Regions from separate parts of the Homo sapiens genome. Here all the other regions are linked to region 3. Evidence: fine-mapped expression QTL. A gene starts in region 3. Each other region holds a variant in brackets. All regions are shown on one strand. Distances are from middle to middle. Region 1 overlaps CRTC1 (CREB regulated transcription coactivator 1). Region 2 has its middle 5.1 kb from the start of KLHL26. Region 3 holds the start of CRLF1 (cytokine receptor like factor 1). Region 4 overlaps CRTC1 (CREB regulated transcription coactivator 1).

Region 1 (5,144 bases), 110 kb before region 3:
GCTGAGGCAGGAGAATGGCGTGAACCCAGGAGGCGGAGCTTGCAGTGAGCCGAGATCGCGCCACTGCCCTCCAGCCTGGACGACAGAGCGAGACTCCGTCTCAAAAAAAAAAAAAAAACAGAGGTTGAACTGGAGTAGGGTATGCCTTAAATCCAATGACTAGCATCCTCAGAAGATGAGAAGAGACACAGTGAGAGGAGGTGTCCACATGACAATGAAGGCAGAGACTGGAGTGATGCAAAGAGCGCCTAGAGCCACTGAAGCTGGAGGAGGCAGGAAGGATCCTCCCCTAGAGCCTCCTGCAGGCACCAGCCCTGCCGACACCTGCACTGAATACATTTCTATTGTTTTAAGATACCCAGTTTGTGGTCATTTGTTACAGCCACCAACAGGAAAGGAAGGACTAAGGCCCCACGCATGTGTGCAGGCAGTGTACTCGGGCAGAGAGGGCCCCATGCATGCGTGCACATAGTGTACATGAGCAGAGAGAAAGAGAGGGAATTCCAAAACTCAGCCGGGTGCAGCAGCTCACACCTGCAATCCCAGTACTTTGGGAGGTCAAGGTGGGTGGATCTCTTGAGGTCAGGAGTTCGAGATCAGCCTGGCCAACATGATGAAACCCCGTCTCTACTGAAAGTACCAAAGTTAGGCCGGGCGTGGTGGCTCACGCCTGTTATCCCAGCACTCTGGGAGGCCGAGGCGGGCGGATCACAAGGTCAGGAGATCAAGACCATCCTGACTAACATGGTGAAACCCCATCTCTGCTAAAAAAAAAAAAAAAAAAAAAACACTAAAAATTAGCCGGGCGTGGTGGCAGGCGACTGTAGTCCCAGTTACTCGGGAGGCTGAGGCAGGAGAATGGCGTGAACCCGGAAGGCGGAGCTTGCAGTGAGCCGAGATCATGCCACTGCACTCCAGCCTGGGTGACAGAGCGAGACTGTCTCAAAAAAAAGAAAAAGAAAGAAAGAAAGAAAATACAAAAGTTAGTCAGGTGTGGTGGCTCACATCTGTAATCCCAGCTACTCGGGAGGCTGAGGCAGGAGAATTGCTTGAACCAGGGAAGCAGAGGTTGCAGTGACACGAGATCGCGTCACTACACTTCAGCCTGGGAGACAGTGAGACTCCATCTCAAAAACAAAACAAAACAAAACAAAAAAACTCACTTTTTCTCCACCTTGACTCAAAACACATCTCTTGGTGCACACTTGTGTTCTGGAATGTGCAAGCACACGTCTATTTGTAGCTGGGGGAACAGATCCTTTGCAGTTTAATTTTAAATCTTATCACCAATTGAATAATGCAAACCACTGGCGGGGATGCTGGCCACTTGAAACAGGGTCTCCCTCCCCAAGAGCGGCCCCTGGGTCCCAGGCAAGAAGCCCGACGCCGACGCTGCCCACATGGACGGGCCTGGGGCCTTCCCGGAGCGGGCCTGTGCCCATCTTGAAAATGTCAGGCCTGGTTTCTGACAGGTGCCGGACCTAACCTCAGGGAAGTCAGATCCCAGACACGGCAGAGGAGGCCCAGCCCTGCTCGCCCCGGGTCAGCCGCCCGCAGGCCTCTGGGATTCTGAGCACCGCGGGGCGATCTGCCAGGAGCCACCTCCGGTCGAGGCGGAACAAATGATTTTTGAAAACGGCATCTGCCTGCTGACACAGGGCTTGCTTGGGGTCTGGGCTGAACCCGCCTCTCTGAGCAGCTCTTTCGACGCTGCCTCCCCCCAGGACGGCTAAGACAAAGGCGAGATGCCCTCATTACCATGGGCCCAAAATAGCTTTTATGCTCCATTTTTTAGACATAGCTTGACTATGGAGTTACATAACACCAAAAGTCATTTTGTGATTTGGAAGGCCAGATCCTGGGCCTGCCGGGGCCCACCTGGTACCCCTTGAGTGCCCTCACAGCCCTGTCCCAAAGGCTTCACCCAGGCCCCTGAACTCCTAGCCAGGCCCCAGGTGGCACCTGCTGCAGGCCCTGGGGACCCGGTGGGGTTAGCCCTTGCCTGTCTCACCATCTTCAGGCCGCATTCTGGGCTAGCGGGGCCAGGCACCACATTTGGAGTGCCCAGCAGACACACACGATGCAGGGAAGGACCAAGCCCAGAGGAGGGGTCACTAGTTGGAGGCTGCGCCCGCCAGGGTAGAAGAAGCAGGGACAGAGGCTGGAGGTGTCCCTTTCCTCTGCCTGCCTCATCACTCCCATGATCACTTCCCAGCAGCTCGACTTCCAGGGCCCATCGTCAGCCCCCTCCCTGGTACTAGCCCGTGTCATCTCGCACCCAGACACCCACGTGACCTCCTCCCAGGCCTCCCTGCTCCCTCTGCAAGTGGCTGCCGAGACTCCTTCATTTTCT[T/C]CTCTTTATTCATTCAGTTCAAATCGTGTTATGCTCCCGTTTTAAACACACCAGTAGGCTTCCATCCTATTTAAAATAAACCCCCAATCTGTATGGCGGTTCCTCAACAAGTGACATGCTGAGCTGCTGTTATGACCAAGCAATCCCACTCCTGGACGGATGCCCCCACGAAATGAAGACAATCATACATGAGTGTGTGTACCAGCACAATGGACAACAGCCAAAAGGTGGGAAAACCCACGTGTGTGCCAAGGGATGAATGAATAAGACTGGTCTGTCCATACAGTGGAATAAGATTCAGCCATGAAAAGGAATGAAGGCTGGGCACGGTGGCTCACACTTGTAATCCCAGCACTTTGGGAGGCGGAGGAGGGAAGATCCCTTGAGGCCAGGAGTTTGAGAGCAGCCTGGCCAATATGGTGAAACCCTGTTTCTAAAAAAAAAAAAAAAAAATTAGCCAGGCATGCATGGTGGTGCACACCAATAATTTCAGCTATTCGAGAGGCAGAGGTGGGAGGTTGGACAGAGCCCAAGAGGTGGAGGCTGCAGTGAGCTGTGATCGTACCACTGCACTCCAGCCTGGGTGACAGAGTGAGACCCTGTCTCAAGAGGAACAACAAAAAAGGAAGGAAGCACTGACCCATGCTACAATGTGGATGAAACTGAACATGTGATGCTGAGTGAGAGAAGCCAGGTACAGAAGGCCACAGGGTGTGAGATTCCATCGATCTGAAATGCTCAGAACAGGCAAATCCACAGAGACAGGAAGCAGATTAGTAACTGCCAGGGGCTGGGGAGGAGAGGAGGGGAGGGACTGCTAATGGGGACAAGGTCTCCTTTGGATGATGAGAATGTTCTGGAACTAGATAGCTGTGATGCCTGCACAATACTGTGAATGCGCCAAACGCCATGGAACTGTTCACTTTCAGATGGTGAATCTTATGTTATGTGGTGTTCACCTCAACAATAGATAAGTAAGATTCAAAGCCAGCCCCGTGACGGGGCTGCCCAGGCCCTGCTGTCTTTTTCTTCTCCCTCACTCCTGTCCCTACTGCCAGGTCCTCTTCCTGCTGTCAAAGGCCTTCTCCCCAGGGGCCCTCTGCTTGTACTGTTCCTGCCTCACACACGCACCCCCGTGTCTGGAAACCACTGCTGCCTTGACCAGGGCTGGCATGAGAAACCGTCCTGCGAGAGGCCCTCCCATGTCCCTGCGGCCCTGCTCTGCTCCCACCCGGCATTTGGCCCACCCCGGAACCCTGCACCCTCCTCTCTGAGCTGCATCCTCCAGCCCCGCCCATACTCACTGTAGGCTGAGACTGGAAGGCAGTGTTTGAGCCCAGGGGTCCTGCATCCAAGCTGGTGGCTGCACGCATCTGTGTCTGCCTCTCTGGGCCCCAGTGCCCCACACACAGGCAGAAACACAGGCTCCTGTGAGTGAGCACTACGACCCTTCTGAGGGGACAGTGTTTGGGGTGATCAGCTCCAGAGGGGAGGGACTGGCCCCTGAACAGTATGGGGTGGCAGCCCTGCTCCAGCTCAGCATCTATGGCAAGGGCTCCAGGGATGCCCTTGACCCCAAGGGCCACTACCCAGTGGTCATTACTGCACCAAGGACAGAGGCCACAAGGAGACAGACCCAGTCCTGGCTCCCACACAGCCTGAAGACCCTGGGAGAGGGTGCTAGGGGAAAGACTTCCCCTGGGCCCTCCACTCCCAAGCCCAGCAGCCCCCTCTCAGCCCCACCCTGGGAGTGCCACCATCACCCCTCACTCAAAGCTCCCCAAACTCATGTCTCCAGCCCAGCGCCAGTCACCCACCAGGGAGGCTGTACAGACATCACACGTGTTCACACACATGCACCCAGCCACATGTGTGCACACTCACAGCAATGCACATAGTCACATAAACACATTCATGCACGTGCATGCACATATGCTCACACGCACACACACATGCTCACACTCCTGTCCTGCCTGCACTCCTGTCCTGCCTGCACGCCAGCTCCCACTCACTTGCACACACACGAGCACATTCACAACTGCCCAAACCTGTCCCTTCCTTAGGAACCCCCCATGCCCCACCTGGCTCCCCCATGTCCCAGCACCTCTTCTGCCCTCTCGCCTCTTCTGTCCTCATTCTGGCCCAAGCCACATCTTCTCTTGCCTGGACAAATACAGAAGCCTCCTACTGGGGTCTCAAGTTAACCCTGCAGCGCCCAAACCACTCAGCTGGAGTCTCTCCAAACTTCCCACCTGAGCAGGTCACTCCAGCTCTACAGGAAAGACGACACAGCATGCTCTACTCGCTAGCCCCTATACTAGCCATGCCCTCTCCACACACTAATGCCCGCTGGGCTCTCCACACGCTAATGCTTGCTGGGCTGCACCTGGGCTAAGAGTCATGCAGGAGCCGGCCAGGCACAGTTGCTCACACCTGTAATCCCAGCACTTTGGGAGGCCAAGGTGGGTGGATCATGAGGTCAGGAGTTTGAGACCAGCCTGGCCAACATGGTGAAACCCCATCTCTACTAAAAATACAAAAATTAGCTGGGTGTGGTGGCAGACGCCTGTAATCCCAGCTACTTGGGAGGCTGAGGCAGAGAACTGCTTGAACCTGGGAGGTGGAGACTGCAGTGAGCTGAGATCGTGCCACTGCACTCCAGCCTGGGTGACAGAGCAAGATTGCGTCTCAAAAAAAAAAAAAGAGTCATTCGGGAGCCACATTCTGGCCCCACCTCCAATAATGACCCTCAGGCTGATGTCCCCACCCTAAGACCACAGCCCCCAACAAG
Region 2 (5,144 bases), 26 kb before region 3:
CCTCCTGAGTAGCTGGGACTACAGGCATGTACCACATGCCTGGCTAATTTTTTTTTTTTTTTTGAGATGGAGTCTCACTCTGTCACCCAGGCTGGAGTGCCGTGGCACAATCTCAGCTCACTGCAATCTTCGCCTCCCAGGTTCAAGTGATTCTCCTGCCTCAGCCTCCCGAGTAGCTGGGACTACAGGCATGTGCCACCACGCCCAGCCAATTTTTGTATTTTTAGTTGAGATGGTTTCACCATGTTGGACAGGCTGGTCTCAAACTCCTGACCTCAAGTGATCCACCTGCCTTGGCCTCCCAAAGTGCTGGGATTACAGGAGTGAACCACTGTGCCCAGCATAATTTTTGTATTTTTATTAGAGACGGGGTTTCACCATGTTGGCCAGGCTGGTCTCGAACTCCTGACCTCAAGTGATCTGCCCGCCTCAGCCTCCCAAAGTGCCAGGATTATAGCGTGAACCACTGCACCCAGCTGACATTGGTTTTAACAGTGTCAATTTAACAGTGTTACAGTGTCTGACTGTTCAACAGTGTCTGACAACTGGGGGACAATATCTTGAATTTGGGACATGAGTCAGGAGGCATATAATCCAGGGAAAAATGGGTAGGGCTCATCCCAGGGTGACAGACATGGAGGGGTGGGAGGTAGTCCTAGTTGAGATGCACTTTGCAGGTGGGACCAAAAAGAGATGGAACAGATGGGATGTCGAGTGAGGCAGAGTGAGGCCAGTGACCTCTGCCAGAGCTGTTGGCCTGAGCTCTAGAGGCCACTATCACTGGCATGGAGCAGAGACAAGTGGAGGACCTGGAGGGCCCACGCCGGTGACTGCACACGCCTCATCCAGTAATGATGACCTGTGGTCTAGCAGAGCCGGCAGGCAGGGACATAGCAGGCAGCATCCACGGGCCTGGCCACCATCTGGCCCACAGCTGGCACGGCTCTCCTAGAGGCAGGGCCCGCGCCACCTGCTCTCCCACTTCAGACCAGCTGCAGGGCTCACACCCTCAGGTCAGAGCTTGGAGGCCTCCCTTACAATCCCCAGGTGTTATGGAGGAGGAAAGTGAAGCCTTGGGGGAGGGCTTCAAGTTCCTGTGGTTTTAGGCTGGGGACAGTGTCTGCCCCATCAGGCAGTCACCACGGAGTGGTCCTGGGGCAAGCCCAAGGTCCCCCGACATCAACTCCCTGTCCTCAGTCCTGTTTGATTTTTCTCCTATCTAACAAACTCTGTGTTTTACCTTTTTTTTTTTTTTTTGAGACAGAGTCTCGCTCTGTCACCAGGCTGGAGTGTAATGGCACAATCTTGGCTCACCGCAACCTCCGCCTCCGAGGTTCAAGCAATTCTCCTGCCTCAGCCTCCCAAGTAGCCGGGATTACAGGCATGCACTACCACGCCTGGCTAATTTTTGTATTTTTAGTAGAGACAGGGTTTCACCATGTTGGCCAGGCTGGTCTTGGATTCCTGACTCAGACGATTCACCCACCTCAGCCTCCCAAAGTGTTGGGATTACAGGCGTGAGCCACTGCGCCTGGCCCTAAATTTTTTTTTAATGGAGGCGGCACATCCTTTCAGGATCATGAGTGAGGCTTGCTGACAAACACCATGATCTCTCTCTGTTACCCCAGCCAGCAGCCTCCCGCACCTCCTTGAAGTCATGTCTGCACTGGCCCCACCTTCTTTTTTTATGTTTTATTTATTTATTTAAATTTTTGTTGTTGTTTTTGTTTTGTTTTGTTTTTTTGAGACAGAGTCTCACTCTGTCGCCCAGGCTGGAGTGCAGTGGCGCGATCTCATATCACTGCAACCTCCACCTCCCGGGTTCAAGCGATTCTCCTGCCTCACCCTCCCAAGTCTCTGGAATTACAGTTGCCCACCACCAGGCCTGGCTGATTTTTGTATTTTTAGCAGAGACAGCATTTCATCATGTTGGCCAGGCTGGTCTCAAACTCCCAACCTCAGGTGATCCGCCCACTTCGGCCTCCCAAAGTACTGGGATTACAGGCACGAGCCACCTCGACTGGCTACCTTCTTTTTTTATGTTTTATTTATCCATTTTCTTAAAAGACAGGGTCTTGGCCAGGTGCGGTGGCTTACGCCTGTAATCCCAGCACTTTGGGAGGCCAAGGCGGGCGGATCACCTGAGGTCGGGAGTTTGAGACCAGCCTGACCAACATGGAGAAACCTCATCTCTAATAAAAATACAAAATTGGCCGGGCGTGGTGGCTCACGCCTGTAATCCCAGCACTTTGAGAGGCCGAGGCGGGCAGATCACGAGGTCAGGAGATCGAGACCATCGTGGCTAACATGGTGAAACCCCGTCTCTACTAAAAAATACAAAAAAAATTAGCCAGGCGTGGTGGTGGGAGCCCATAGTCCCAGCTACTTGGGAGGCTGAGGCAGAAGAATGGCGTGAACCCGGGAGGCGGAGCTTGCAG[C/T]GAGCCCAGATCGCACCACTGCACTCCAGCCTGGGTGACAGAGCGAGACTCTGTCTCAAAAAAAATAAAAATAAAAATAAAAATAAAATAAATAAATAAATATACAAAATTAGCCGGGCGTGGTGGCACATGCCTGTAATCCCAGCTACTCGGGAGGCTGAGGCAGGAGAATGGCTTGAACCCAGGAGTCGGAGGTTTCAGTGAGCCGAGATCATGCCATTGCACTCCAGCTTGGGCAACAAGAGCAAAACTCTGGCTCAAAAAAAAGAAAGACAGGGTCTTCGTCTCGCTCTGTCACCTAGGCTGGAGTGCAGTGGCACGATCATAGCTGACTGTAACCTCCAATTCCTGGGCTCAAGCCATGCTCCCTCCTCAGCTTCCTGAGTAGCTAGAACTATAAGGCATATGCCACCATGCCTTTCTAATTTTATTATTTTATTTTTATTTATTTATTTTTTTGAGACAGGGTCTCACTCTGTCACCCAGAGTGCAGTGGTGCAACCTCAGTTCACTGCAGCCTTGACTTCCTGGGCTCAAGTGATCCTCCTACCTCAGTCTCCCGAGTAGCTGAGACCACAGGTGTGCGCCACCACGCCCAGCTAATTTTTGCATTTTTTTTTTTTTGTAGAGTTGAGGTTTCACCATGTTGCCCAGGCTGGTCTTGAGCTTCTGAGCTCAAGCAATCTGTCCACCTCAGCCTCCTAAAGTGCTGGGATTACAAGCATGAGCCACCACGCCGGGCCCTTTTATTTATTTATTTATATTTTTAGAGATAAGGTCTCACTCTGTCGCCCAGGCTGAAATGCAGTGGCGCAATCATAGCTCACTGCAGCCTCAACCTCCTGGGTCAAATGAGCCTCGTACCTCAGCCTCCAGAGTAGCTGGGACCACAGGTGTATGCCAGTACACCTGGCTAATTTTGTAAAAAAAATTTGGTAGAGACAGAGTCTCACTATATTGTTCAGGCTGGTCTTGAACTCCAGGCCTCAAGTGATTCTCCCACTTCAGCCTCCCAAAGTGCTGGGATCACAGGTGTGAGCCACCATACCTAGTGTATATCTTGATTATAGGGGTATCTTAGGAGGATTACATTTGCCAAAACTCATTGAACTGGGCATTTAACATGGATGTGCCATTGGATGTAAATTATGTCTTATTAAAGCTGGTTTACTAAGGCTGGGCGCGGTGGCTCACGCCTGTAATCCCAGCACTTTGGGAGGCCAAGGTGTGTGGATCACAAGGTCAGGAGATCGAGACCATCCTGACTAACACGGTGAAACCCCGTCTCTACTAAAAATACAAAAAATTAGCCGGGTGTAGTGGCGGGCACCTGTAGTCCCAGCTACTTGGGAGGCTGAGGCAGGAGAATGGTGTGAACCCAGGAGGCGGAGCTTGCAGTGAGCCAAGCCATTGCACTCCAGCCTGGGTGACAGAGTGAGACTCTGCCTCAAAAAAAAAAAAAAAAAAAAAAAGCTGATTTACTAAAACAAAATCAGGCCAGTTGCGGTGGCTCAAGACTGTAATCCCAGCACTTTGGGAGGCCGAGGCAGGAGGATCACTTGAGTCCAGGAGTTTAAGACCAGCCGTGGCAACATAGAGGGATCCCATCCCAATAGAAAAAAAAAGAAAAGGTCAAATCCACCCAATGTGATAAGAACTAGGACTACCTCTGGGGGGCGACCAACTGGGACCCACCACTGTGGGGACTAGGGTGCTGAGAGGCTGCTGGGGATTCAACTGTCAGCCCATCCGACAAGATCCTTGACCTCATGTTCCAAGATATTCTGAAAGGTACATTCTGATGGGAAAGACAAATCTGAGATATATAATTGATCAATGACCAAGGCCATTTCAGATGGCAATAACTGCCTTGAAGGCAATGAGCTGAGAGCGATCAAGTGTGTGTTGGGTAGGGGAGCACTGCTTCAGCCAGAAGATCAGGGAGAGCCTCCCTGAAGAGGTGATGATGTCCCAGCTTCAGTAAAAGAAGGGGACAGAATGTTCTAGAATGTTCCAGGACATTCCAGAACATTGTGCAATGTTCCCGTATATTCTGAGAGGACATAATATGAAGGACCTAAGCCCAGTGCCAGAAAAAGCTCAAGGGATAGAGATGAGGCCGCACTGGCTTGGAAGAAGTGGGCAAGGCGGAGCAAGGATGGAGAGTGTCGACAAAGATGTATTGAGAGCAGCCTCCTTGGTGTGTGGGACACAGCTGTGACCGAGACGCCTAGCGCATAGCATCTGGCAGAGGGAACATTTATTAAACCAATCATCACACAAGCAAACAAGCCATCACTTAATTGTCACCATGATAAAAGCTGGGGCTGAGCCAGGAGGTCAGGCTGAAGAGCTGGCCAGACGGAGCGAAGAGGGAACAGCCTCCAGGCGGAGGGAACAGCCTGCATGGGGGCCCTGAGGAGGGAGAGTGTGCCAGGAGCTGCATGGAGCCCAACAGGGACCTGAAGTCTCCTCTTCGCACCCCAGGAAAAGACAGCCACCATGCATCCCCATCCTGCCCTCCAAGTGTTTACAGAATGTCCCCTGTGTGCCAGCTGGATGCTGGGGACACCCTCTCCCCATTTCTTCCTGGCGGATTGCCACCCCTGGGCTAAGAAACTCAGGCCTGTCACTAGGGAACCAAGTTGCTGTGGCAACCCTGTGCTACCGTTGCCATGACGCCAGCCACCCACCCACCCACTACCA
Region 3 (5,116 bases):
GACATGAGGGATGAGCAAAGGAGAGAGTTGTCACGTGCGCTTCCAGGTCTCTGGCCTGAGCACCTGGATGGATGGGAGAGCCCTTTCCCAAAACCAAAATGACTGGAAGAGAAGCAGAAATGGAGGGAGGAAAAAATCAAGGTTTTGCTCCAGAAGCCTGAAGTCCTCCCAGGAGGGAGTGAGGCGTCTCTATCCACACAGAGAGCATCTGCAGACAGGAGCCATGGGGGAGTAGTGGTGAGTATCCTAAAAACTCAATTCCAGCCAAGGACTGCCACCTCCACTTAACCCTCTGGGTCCCCTGGCAGGTGGGACTATGGCTCCATGTTTCAGAGGGGACAAGCAGGGCTGGGGGTCACCTCTGCTCCAGGATATCCTCCAGTGCTGTGCTAAGGGCTTGGATTGTAGAGACTTCTGCTGCCCTGCGTCTTCCCACAGAAGCTCCTAGACTGGGTGGTGCCCACTGTGCAGAGGAAGAAACTGAGGCACAAAAGGCCTGGTTTCCCGAAGTAAATGGCAGCGTCTCTCCTTGTCTGTCTTCTCCATCCAGAATTCAGATGGAGCAGGGGCGCCCTGGGCCCCTATAGGCTCCCATCCCCCAATCTTGTTTTTTGACAGTCTGGAGTCTGAACTGGAGATTTAAGTAGGAGAGGGTGGGGCTTCAGTCTTGGGCAGACAAATGGGGGCTCCTGAGCCCCCCTCAGACACTTTTACCCCCTTGGCTGGTTGGGGACCAGGAGAGAGAATCCAGGCCTCTAAGGGACTCCTGGAAAAGGGGACTTGGAGCCGTTCCCTTCCCTGGGCGCTGCAGCTGGGGGCGGGGCTGCGACCAAAAGTGGGTAATTGCACCCCCCAACTCTCATTTCAGGCACCCCCATCCGCAGCAGCCTTGGAGGCCAGGAACCCTTTATTCCTGGGCGCCCGCATCGGGTGGGGACCGGGAGGAGGGAGATGAGACGCCCGGACCGGGAGGGGTCCCGAAACTCGAGCAATGGCCAAAAATAATAACACGGAGAAGGCTCTTTGCGCAAAAGAAGGAAGACAAACTATGCGTCGCTCCGGGCAGCCGGCGTTACCTGGAGTCGGCGGGCGGTGGCCGCCGAAGCGATTACTCACCGCGTGGCGCACCCCACCCGCGGGCCGCTGAGTGGATTTTTCCGTGGCGGGGTGTGAATAGGTCCCGGGGAAAGAGCTTCTTACCGCTCTCCTCCTGGGAATCCCTCTTACTGCGGTGCGGGACCCAGTTCCCGCGCAGGCCTGGGTCCCGGCTCCCACAGGGGACTACATCTCCCCGTCTGCCCACGCAGGAGCTCCCTCCCGAGGCCCCCGGGGCGCCCAGAGCAACCTCAAACCCATCCCGCGCGCGAAGGGGACAGCGCAGCCAGGGCGAAGGCGAGGGACTCCGTGCCTTCCTGCTTTTTCTCCTTTCTTCCAGCAAAGCCTGGGGCCGAGGCTACTCGCGGAGAATCGAAAAGAGGCAGGATGAGGTGGGAGGGCTGGAACCCGCGCGCCGAGGGCGTGGGGCTGGGGGTGACTTTTAGGCCCCTGGGAAGGCTGAGGGGCTGGAGATGGGGGTAGGCGGGACTCAAGGACCGCTCGGTGGGGGGGGCGGGGCCAGAGCTGGGGTGGGGGCCGAGACAGAAGATTGGGCCGTGGAAGGGGGAATGGAGGAGTGGGGCAGGGTTGGGGACCAAAGGGGCCACTGAAGAGGCACTGGGCTGAGAGGAGGGTGCAGGGAAGTGGGCAGGGTTATGGAAACGGGATTGGGGGTGCCGGGTCCCAGACTGGGGGTGGGAAGCCTGGAGCTGGCAGGGTTGGAGAGGGAGGTCCTGGGCCGGTAGGGGTTGAGTTAGGGGGCTTTGGGCCGCGGGATAGGGCGCGCGCGGTTCTCGGTGGGGCGGAGGCGGGACGGGCGGGGCGCGCGGTGCCCGCGGGCGGGCGGGCGGCGGGGAGGCCGGTGCGGGGCCCGCCGCCCCCCCGGGGCCGGGCCGGGCCGGGGGCGGGGCCGGGCGGGGCCAGCGGCGCATTAGCGCCTTGTCAATTCGGCTGCTCAGACTTGCTCCGGCCTCCGCGTCCGCGCCCAGCGACGTGCGGGCGGCCTGGCCCGCGCCCTCCCGCGCCCGGCCTGCGTCCCGCGCCCTGCGCCACCGCCGCCGAGCCGCAGCCCGCCGCGCGCCCCCGGCAGCGCCGGCCCCATGCCCGCCGGCCGCCGGGGCCCCGCCGCCCAATCCGCGCGGCGGCCGCCGCCGTTGCTGCCCCTGCTGCTGCTGCTCTGCGTCCTCGGGGCGCCGCGAGCCGGATCAGGAGCCCGTGAGTACCCGGCGCCCCACTCCTTCCCCCCTGCCAGAGCAGAGGGCGGGCGCCCCGGGGGCAGCCGCGGGGGGAGGGGGCGCGGGCGCCACCTGGACGGCCGGGGAACAAAGGAAGGCGCCCCCGGCGCAGCCCTCGGGGCGCCCTCACCTGCGGGGCACACGGCGCCGCAGTCCACTGTCCAGAGAGTCCTGCTTCCGCGCCCGAGGCCCTGTTACCTGGGCAGCTGGGCCGAGGGCGCCAGGCCAGGCCCCCGGGGGCTGGGGGGATCGCGGCCTGAGACCCTCTGCATGCCAGGACGTGGCGGGCGCACGCGTCTGCTTCGGTGGACTCTGGGCCCCTGGGACTGCAGGGCACCGCTCCCAGGCGGGGGCGCACGCGGTTGGCGCGCTGGGTGCGGGCCCCCAGCGGGCCCCCCCAGGCGGAGGGATGAGCCCCACGGGGAGGGCGGGGCTGCAGGGGGGCCGCTCTGGCCGCCTGGCGCGCAGCCCGGGGTCCCGGGGGACTTGTGTCTCCACGGGCCGGCGCCACCGCCCTCCCCCTGCGGGACCCGGCGCACGGGGGTCCGCGGAGTCCCCGCCACCGGCGGCGCTTAGAACCGTTTTCAGCCAGGCTGCGTCGGGCGGAGAGCCTCCAGCGAGAGGAATCTTTGTGAGCGAGTGGGTGAGAGGGAGAGGGAGCGGGAGCCAGTGAGTCCGGGCACCAGCGGGCCCAAACTTTGAGGGGGCCCACTGGGAACCCGCTGCCCTACGGGCCAAGACCCCTGCCCTGGAGGGACTTCTGGCCTCAGGCACTCTGGGGCCCCCCATCCAAGGAACACCCCCGCAAGGATACGTCTCCGTATGCAGACCCGCTCTGGGACACACCCAGAGACACACAAAGAATCACACTGGCTTGTGGCCCGTCACCCTCGCCCTCAAACTCGCGCACACTGCATCCCAGGTGCACATTCGCGCACCATCGCGGACGCACACACATTCCATCCCCGACACACACATTCACGGTCACACACATCCCACAGGGGAGGCGACCCAGGGGCACAGAGGCAGGCACCACTCGCCCCAGATGTTCAGTCACTCCACGCACCCCATCCAGGCGCACGGGCCACCCCGGGGGTCGCCGGGCACACACTGCTCCCAGGCTCATCCACCCTGTGCTGGGCTGTTTGCGGGCTGCCTGTAGGGCTCCTCCGGGAAGGGGCAGGGTCCGGGCATCTTCTAGGGGCACTTGCTGAAAGCCTGGCTCTCCCCTGGCTTTCAGGTGAGGGGCTACCTCGGGCCCTCCCAGGGCCCCTGACGGCTCTGCCAGGCGGTGGGCAGCGCCTGTGAGTGCCACTGTGAGCGCCAAGCTTTGTTTTCAGCCAGTAGAGCAGCAGGCGAAGGTGTAGGGGGTGGGGGGGCACTGTAAGTGTGTTTTTTCCTTTAAGGGGGGAAGAAATTAAATAAAAGATTCTCACACCTCGGCAATATGTTTCTACTTACGGTGTGTCTTAGCACCTGACCAGCAGGCGGGTGGGTCGTAAAGTGTCTGCAGGTACCAGCGGGACGGGAGATGGGGACCCCCGTGGGGACCCTGGGATGGAGGCCACCCTTCCGCCCTGCTTGCAGAGAATCTCACACTTTTCCCTTTTAAAACACATGGTGTTCCTTTTTAATAACGGCAGTGGCTCCAGATTGGGAAAAGAGGAGAGAAAAAACTTTTAAAGGCCCCAGCTCTGCGGGAAAGGAGGGGAGGCAGGGAGTGAAAAGGGAGCTGTTCAAAAGCCCAACCTAGGGATCTGCTTTGGGGAGCCCTAGGAGGCCCTCCAAACCAAGCCAAGCCCCCACCAACTCCGGCTCAGTGGGCTGTTCCCAGCTGCTCCCCTGCCTGGCCTGGAGTGCGTGCATCTCTGTCCCCAGCGCCTTAGCCCATTGTTTGTGGAGGCCTGGAGGGAGTGCCTAGTCAGCCGGGACCCCAGAGCTGGGAGGGGCTGTCATCTTTGCAGCTCCTGGGGGCTTCAGGCTTCTGAGCCCTCTGGACATTGGATTGCAATCACATCTCATTGATCTCCCCAGCAAGTAGAACGTATTTCTCCTCCCATTTTATGGAGGAGAAAATTGAGAACTGGAGAGGGGAAGTCAATTGGCCAGGTTCTCCCACTGGTGTTGCGCCCATATCCCGGGAGGAGAAAGTGTCCTTCTGACCTTACCGGCTGGGGCTAAGGGGGTGGGAGATTGGTCTGTCCAGGCCCGCCTGGCCTTGCCTTCCCCCTACAACCCGTCGCCGCCCGGTGTCCCCCGCCCAGCCCCGGGAGGGCAGCTGCAGCTGCTGGCAAGTGAGCCACGCCGGCCCAGGCCAGGCGGGTGTGGCAGAGGGGCAGCGCCCCCCAGCCAGGACCCCCCAGAGAGCCCCTTCCTGCCCAGGCCAAGCTGGCGGGTGGTGGGGGCAGGAGGAGTGAGACCCACTCTAGAAGGGCTGAGAGGGGCCTGGGGTCTGGGCAGGCCTGGCCGTGCCTCCCACTCTGTTGGGGGGGCCCAGGCAGGAAGCGGTGGGTGGGCCGGGGCAGAGACGCTGGCACACCCGAGTTCATGCAAAAGGAATTCCGAATTAGCGGGCGGCTGGCTGCCTGGGACCTCCAGGGCGGTCCCCTGGCCCCCAGCCCCCCGCCCCCCTCGGCCGCCCCCGCCTCCTCGGCTCTGGCCCGCTCAGCCGGCTCCTTCGCACGGACGCGGAGACCTCCGGCGAGCCCTGGGCCAAGCCCCAAGCGCAACTGCGATTCCAGGCTCCAGCGAGACAGAGCCCTCGAGCCAAGTTTGCCCCGGAAAAT
Region 4 (5,144 bases), 100 kb before region 3:
CCTCAGCAGGGGTGTCCGCAGGTACAGAGGCTCATCCCAACTCCCATCCATGGCCTTGCTCAGACACAGCCCCCAGCCACCCTCAGATGCCCTCTCTGCTCCCTCTCAGCCCCATGCAGATACTGCCCTTCTTAACCTGCCCGCTCCCTCCTTCCTGTCTAGGCCCCATTTTGGGCCTGGAGGCTTCTCCCTCTGAAGCTGTCCTGGCTCCTGCCACCTGGCCTGTCCCCTGCACCAGGAGCCACACCCCCCTGCTGCAGCCCTTCTCCCACTGCCTGAGGGTTACGTGTGGGGGCAAGGTGGGCATAAAAAGGCACCATGAGGGGACATCAGGACAGAGGATGAGGGGCCAGGTGAGGGGAAAGGTGGTCCCTGTGTGAGGGAGGCTGCGGGCACCAGGCTGGGAGGCCCTGTCCCCTTGGCTACCACCTCCTCATGTGCACCCTGCCAACACCAAGCCTCTGCAGCTGCTCTGCCCACTGCCAGGTGCACCTGCGACTCTGGGCTCCACAAGGCCCCTCCCATGCCATGCCTGGCACCTGCTGCTCCAGAAACAGCCCTGGGACCCTGCACCTCCGAGCACCATGCGGGCTCAGAGGAGGTACCGGGTGGACATTTACCCACTGCACCCATGAGGCCTTCCCCTCAGCCTTCCTCCCGGGCCTAGAGACAGCACCCCACGGAGGACAGGACAGCAGGGAGCGGCAGGGAGGAGTCACCAGGGTGGCCACACGGCTGCCTGAACTGAGCACAGCTCTGGGCTTGCCACGGCGTGGGCAGGGTGGCTGAGTAGGGGCAGGAAACCAGGGTCCTCCTGCTTCTGGGCACCGCTCAGCTGGGAGCAGGGCCAGTGCCCACGGAAGATACCACAGGGTCCCGAACGGCGGTGGGAAGGGAAGGGCCAGGCCGGCCCCACAGGAGCCCTGACCTCGGTCCCCACGCTCCGTCTGCCTCTCAAACTTGGCTCCCCGAGGACTTGGCCTCTGTGTTTCTCACGTCACTCCTTACTGTCAGCTAACTCCCAAGTGCCGCCCCAGCCCTGCTTCCAGAACATTCCCTGTGATGCCCCAGGAGACTCCTCCAGCCCAGCAGCCCCTCACCAGGCTCGTCATGGTCCCGATTCCCCCAGCCAACGTGCCCAATTCACCTGGCCCTGGCAGACAGTGCCATGATCTTCCTGATGCTGATACAGAAGCCAGAAACCCGGGGTGGCCCCGTTCCTCTCTCGGGCACCCTGGGTTCACCTCTCCTCTGCAGTTCCTGAGCCCCTCCAGAACCCACAACTCCCTTCCCTGTTCTCCTCTCCAACCCCACCACCTTTTCTCTAGCCTTTCTTAAAGCTCAAAGCTGATCCTGGGTCACCCCTCCCCACCCCATAGCTGGCTGTGGGATCACGTCCAAGCTCTCCAGCTTGGCTCTTGGGCCTTTCCAGATCTGGGTCTCCTCTCTCCTTCCTCCTTCCCTGCCTCCTGTAGGCCTCTGGGCCCCATATATGCTGTTTCTCCTCCACCCAAAGAGCCTTCCCTTCCCTACCCACCTCTTGCACCGGCAACTCGGACCTCACCCCTAATGTCCCACTGCAGAGCTCTCCTCCTCCAGGCAGCCCTCCCAGGAGACATGGCTGCCTTCATGGAGCACTACCTGTGCAAGCTACAGTCCTGAGGACTGTTCATGCATTGACAGAGTTAGCCCCCTTCATGGCACATCTTACAGATGGGGAAACTGAGGCAGGGGCCAATTATGGGCTTGCCCAGGGTCACATAGCTGGGAGGAGGAGAGTGTGACTTCTTTTTGTTGTTGTTGTTTTAAATAGAGACAGGATCTGACTACGTTGCTCTGCCTGGTCTTGAACTCCTGGGCTCAAGTGATCCTCCTGCCTTGGCCTCCCAAAGTGGTGGGATTACAGGCGTGAACCACTGTGCCCGGCCACAACTTAATATTTCAGAGGTGGCAATACTACCCAAAACAGTCTAGATTCAATGCAATCCCTACCAAAATACCATTTCCTGAAGAAATAGAAAAAAATCCACCCTAAAATCCATATGGGATCTCAAGGAATCTGAAATAGACAAGACAATCTTGAAAAATAACAAAATTGGAGGACTCACACTTTGTTATTTCAAAACTTAACTACAAAGCTACAGTAATCAAAACAGTGTGGTACTGACATAAAGACAAACATCAAGACCAATGGAATAGAATAAAAGCCCAGAAATAAACCCTCACATATATGGTCAAGTGATTTTCAACAAGGGTGCCAAACCATTCAACGGGGAAGGGACAGTCTTTTCAACAAAACGGCTCTGGAAAAACAAGATCTCCATATGCAAAAGAATGAAGCTGTGCCCTGATCTAACACCATATACAAAAATTAACTCAAGACGGATCAAAGATCTAAAGCTAAAACTATAAAAGTAAAAAACTAAAACTGTAACTCTATAACTAAAACCATAAAAGCTAAAACTATATATACTAAAACTATAAAACTCTTGGAAGAAAACAGAGGAAAAGCTTCATACACTGGAGTTGGCAATAATTTCTTGGATC[G/T]GACACCAAAAGCACAGGCAACAAAAGAAAAAATACATAAATTGGATGCTGCCAAAATTAAAAACACTTGTGCATCAAAAGACGTAATCAACAGAGTGAAAAGGCCCCATTCCCACGGAATGAGAGAAAATATTTGCGAATCATATAGATGATAAGGGATCAATATGTAGACTATATAAAGAACTCTTACAACCCACCAACAAAAAGAAAAACAACCCAATTTAAAAATAGTCAAAATGTGAATGTACTAAAAAGCGCTAAAAAACAAGGGCAAAGGACTTGAATAAACATTTCTCCAAAGACAAATGGCCAATAAGCACATGAAAAGATGCTCAACAGCACTAATCATTAGGGAAATGCAAACCAAAACCACAATCCCTATCAAAATATCCTTTTTCGCAGAAATAGAAAAAAATCCACCCTAAAATCCATACAGAATCTCAAAAAACCTCAAATAGCCAAGACAATATTGAAAAAGAATAACAAAATTGGAAGACTCACACTTCTTGATCTCAAAACTTAACTACAAAGCTACAGTAATCAAAAGAGTGTGATACTGGCATAAAGAGAAACATAAAGACCAATGGGGCCAGATGTGGTGGCTCACGCCTATAATCCCAACACTTCGGGAGGCCAAGGCGGGGGGGATCATCTGAGGTCAAGAGTTCAAGACTAGCCTGGCCAACATGGTGAAACCCCATCTCTACTAAAAATACAAAAATTAGCTGAGTGTGGTGATGGGCACCTGTAATCCCAGCTACTCAAGAGGCTAAGGCAGGAGAATCGCTTTGAACCCGGGAGGAGGAGGTTGCAGTGAGCCAAGATTGCACCACTGCACTCCAGCCTGAGAGACAGAGCAAGACTCTGTCTAAAAAAAAAAAAAAAAAAAAAAAAAAAAAAAAAAAAAAAAAGACCAATGGAATAGAATAGAAAGCCCAGAAATAAACTGTCACATATATGGTCAAGTGATTTTCAACAAGGGTGCCAAACTACTCAATGGGAAAAGGATGGTCTTTTCAACAAATAGCTCTGGGAAAACAGGATCTCCAAGTGCAAAAAGAAAAACAACCCAATTTAAAATAGATAAAGTATGAATATACTAAAAAGCATTAAAAAAAAAAAAAAAGAGAGAGAGAGAGGAAAAGGAAAAGGGCACAGGACTTGAATAAACATTTCTCCAAAGACAGACAAATGGCCAAGAAGCACATGAAAAGATGCTCAACATCACTAATCATTAGGGAAATGCAAACCAAAACCACAATCCCTATCAAAATATCATTTTTTGCAAAAAAAAAATATTAGGATTAGTAAATATTAGTAGACATTAGGATGGCTATTATCAAAAAATCAGAAAATAACAAGTGTTATTGAGGATATGGAGAAACTGAAATCCTTATACACTGTTGGTAGGAACATAAAATGGTATAGCCACTACAGAGAACAGTGTGGCAGTTCCTCAAAAAATTAAACATGCTGGCTGGGCGTGGTGGTTCACGCCTGTAATCCCAGCACTTTGGGAGGCCAAGGCAGGTGGATCATCTGAGGTCAGGAGTTCGAGACCAGCCTGGCGAACATGGTGAAACCCCCATCTCCATTAAAAACACAAAGATTAGCCAGGTGTGGTGGCATGCGCCTGTAATTCCAGCTACTCGGGAGGCTGAGGCAGAACCGCTTGAACCCAGGAGGCAGAGGATGTGGTGAGCCGAGATCACGCCACTGCACTCCAGCATGGGTGGTAGAGCAAAACTCTGTCTCAAAAAAAATTAAACATACAATTACACATGATCCAGCAATCCCATGTCTGGGAATATACCCAAAAAAATTATGAGTAGGGACTCAAAGAGATGTACACCAATGTTCACAGCAGCACTACGCACAATAGCCAAATGGTGAAACCAGCCAAATGTCCATCAACAGATGAACGGATAAACAAAATGTGTCCCATCCATACAGTGGAATAACAGCCTTAGAGGGGAAGGACGTTCTGACACGTTACAACGTGGACGAACCTTGAGGACATTATGCTCAGTGAAATAAGCCAGACACAAAATGATAAATCCTGGATGATTCTCCTTACATGAGGTCCCTGGAGTCGTCAAACTCATAGAGGTGGAAAATAGGATGGTGGTTGCCAGGGGCTGGGAGGGAATGGAGGGTAGTAGGAGGGTGGGGGTTGGGGATTGGGGGGTAGGGGGTGGGTGGGTGAGTGTTTAATGGGGACAGAGTTTCTGTGCGGGAAGATGCAAAAGCTCTGAACACAGATGGTGGTGATGATTGCAAAACAATGTGAGGATACTTACTAAATGCCACTGAACTGCACACTTAAGGTTAAGACAGTAACTTACACGTTATGTGTATTTGTTTTGTTTTTGGTTTGTTTTTGAGACAGGGTCTTGTTCTGTTGCCCAGGCTGCAGTGCAGTGGTGCGATCATGGCTCACTGCAACCTCTGCCTCCAGGGTTCAAGCGATTCTCCTGCCTCAGCATCCCGAGTAGCTGGGATTACAGGCGCCTGCCACCACACCCAGCTAATTTTTGTATTTTTAATAGAGACGGGGTTTCAACATGTTGACTAGACTGGTCTCGAACTCCTCACCT

Evidence for each region. PIP is the estimated chance that this variant, and not a neighbour inherited with it, causes the effect. A credible set is the group of variants that fine-mapping cannot tell apart.
Region 1: its variant is the best candidate, but not a certain one, in a credible set for the expression of CRLF1 in cerebellar hemisphere (GTEx, PIP 0.58).
Region 2: its variant is the best candidate, but not a certain one, in a credible set for the expression of CRLF1 in aorta (GTEx, PIP 0.82).
Region 4: its variant is the best candidate, but not a certain one, in a credible set for the expression of CRLF1 in cerebellum (GTEx, PIP 0.68).

The regions. Positions count from the first base shown.
Region 1 is chr19:18,716,170-18,721,313 of GRCh38, reverse strand. All of the region lies in intron 1 of CRTC1 (CREB regulated transcription coactivator 1), which reads right to left. Among named protein-coding and RNA genes, the nearest start is that of CRTC1, 35 kb to the right of the region's middle. The variant T/C (reference allele first, on the strand shown) is at 2,354.
Region 2 is chr19:18,629,315-18,634,458 of GRCh38, reverse strand. It overlaps the pseudogene RN7SL155P. Among named protein-coding and RNA genes, the nearest start is that of KLHL26, 5.1 kb to the left of the region's middle. The variant C/T (reference allele first, on the strand shown) is at 2,439.
Region 3 is chr19:18,603,736-18,608,851 of GRCh38, reverse strand. CRLF1 (cytokine receptor like factor 1) reads left to right here and starts at 2,053. Exons shown (of 9, transcript NM_004750.5): 1 at 2,053-2,310. The coding sequence starts at 2,196. RefSeq lists an enhancer at 2,013-2,931.
Region 4 is chr19:18,704,497-18,709,640 of GRCh38, reverse strand. The region is part of intron 1 of CRTC1 (CREB regulated transcription coactivator 1); the gene reads right to left. Among named protein-coding and RNA genes, the nearest start is that of CRTC1, 23 kb to the right of the region's middle. The variant G/T (reference allele first, on the strand shown) is at 2,548.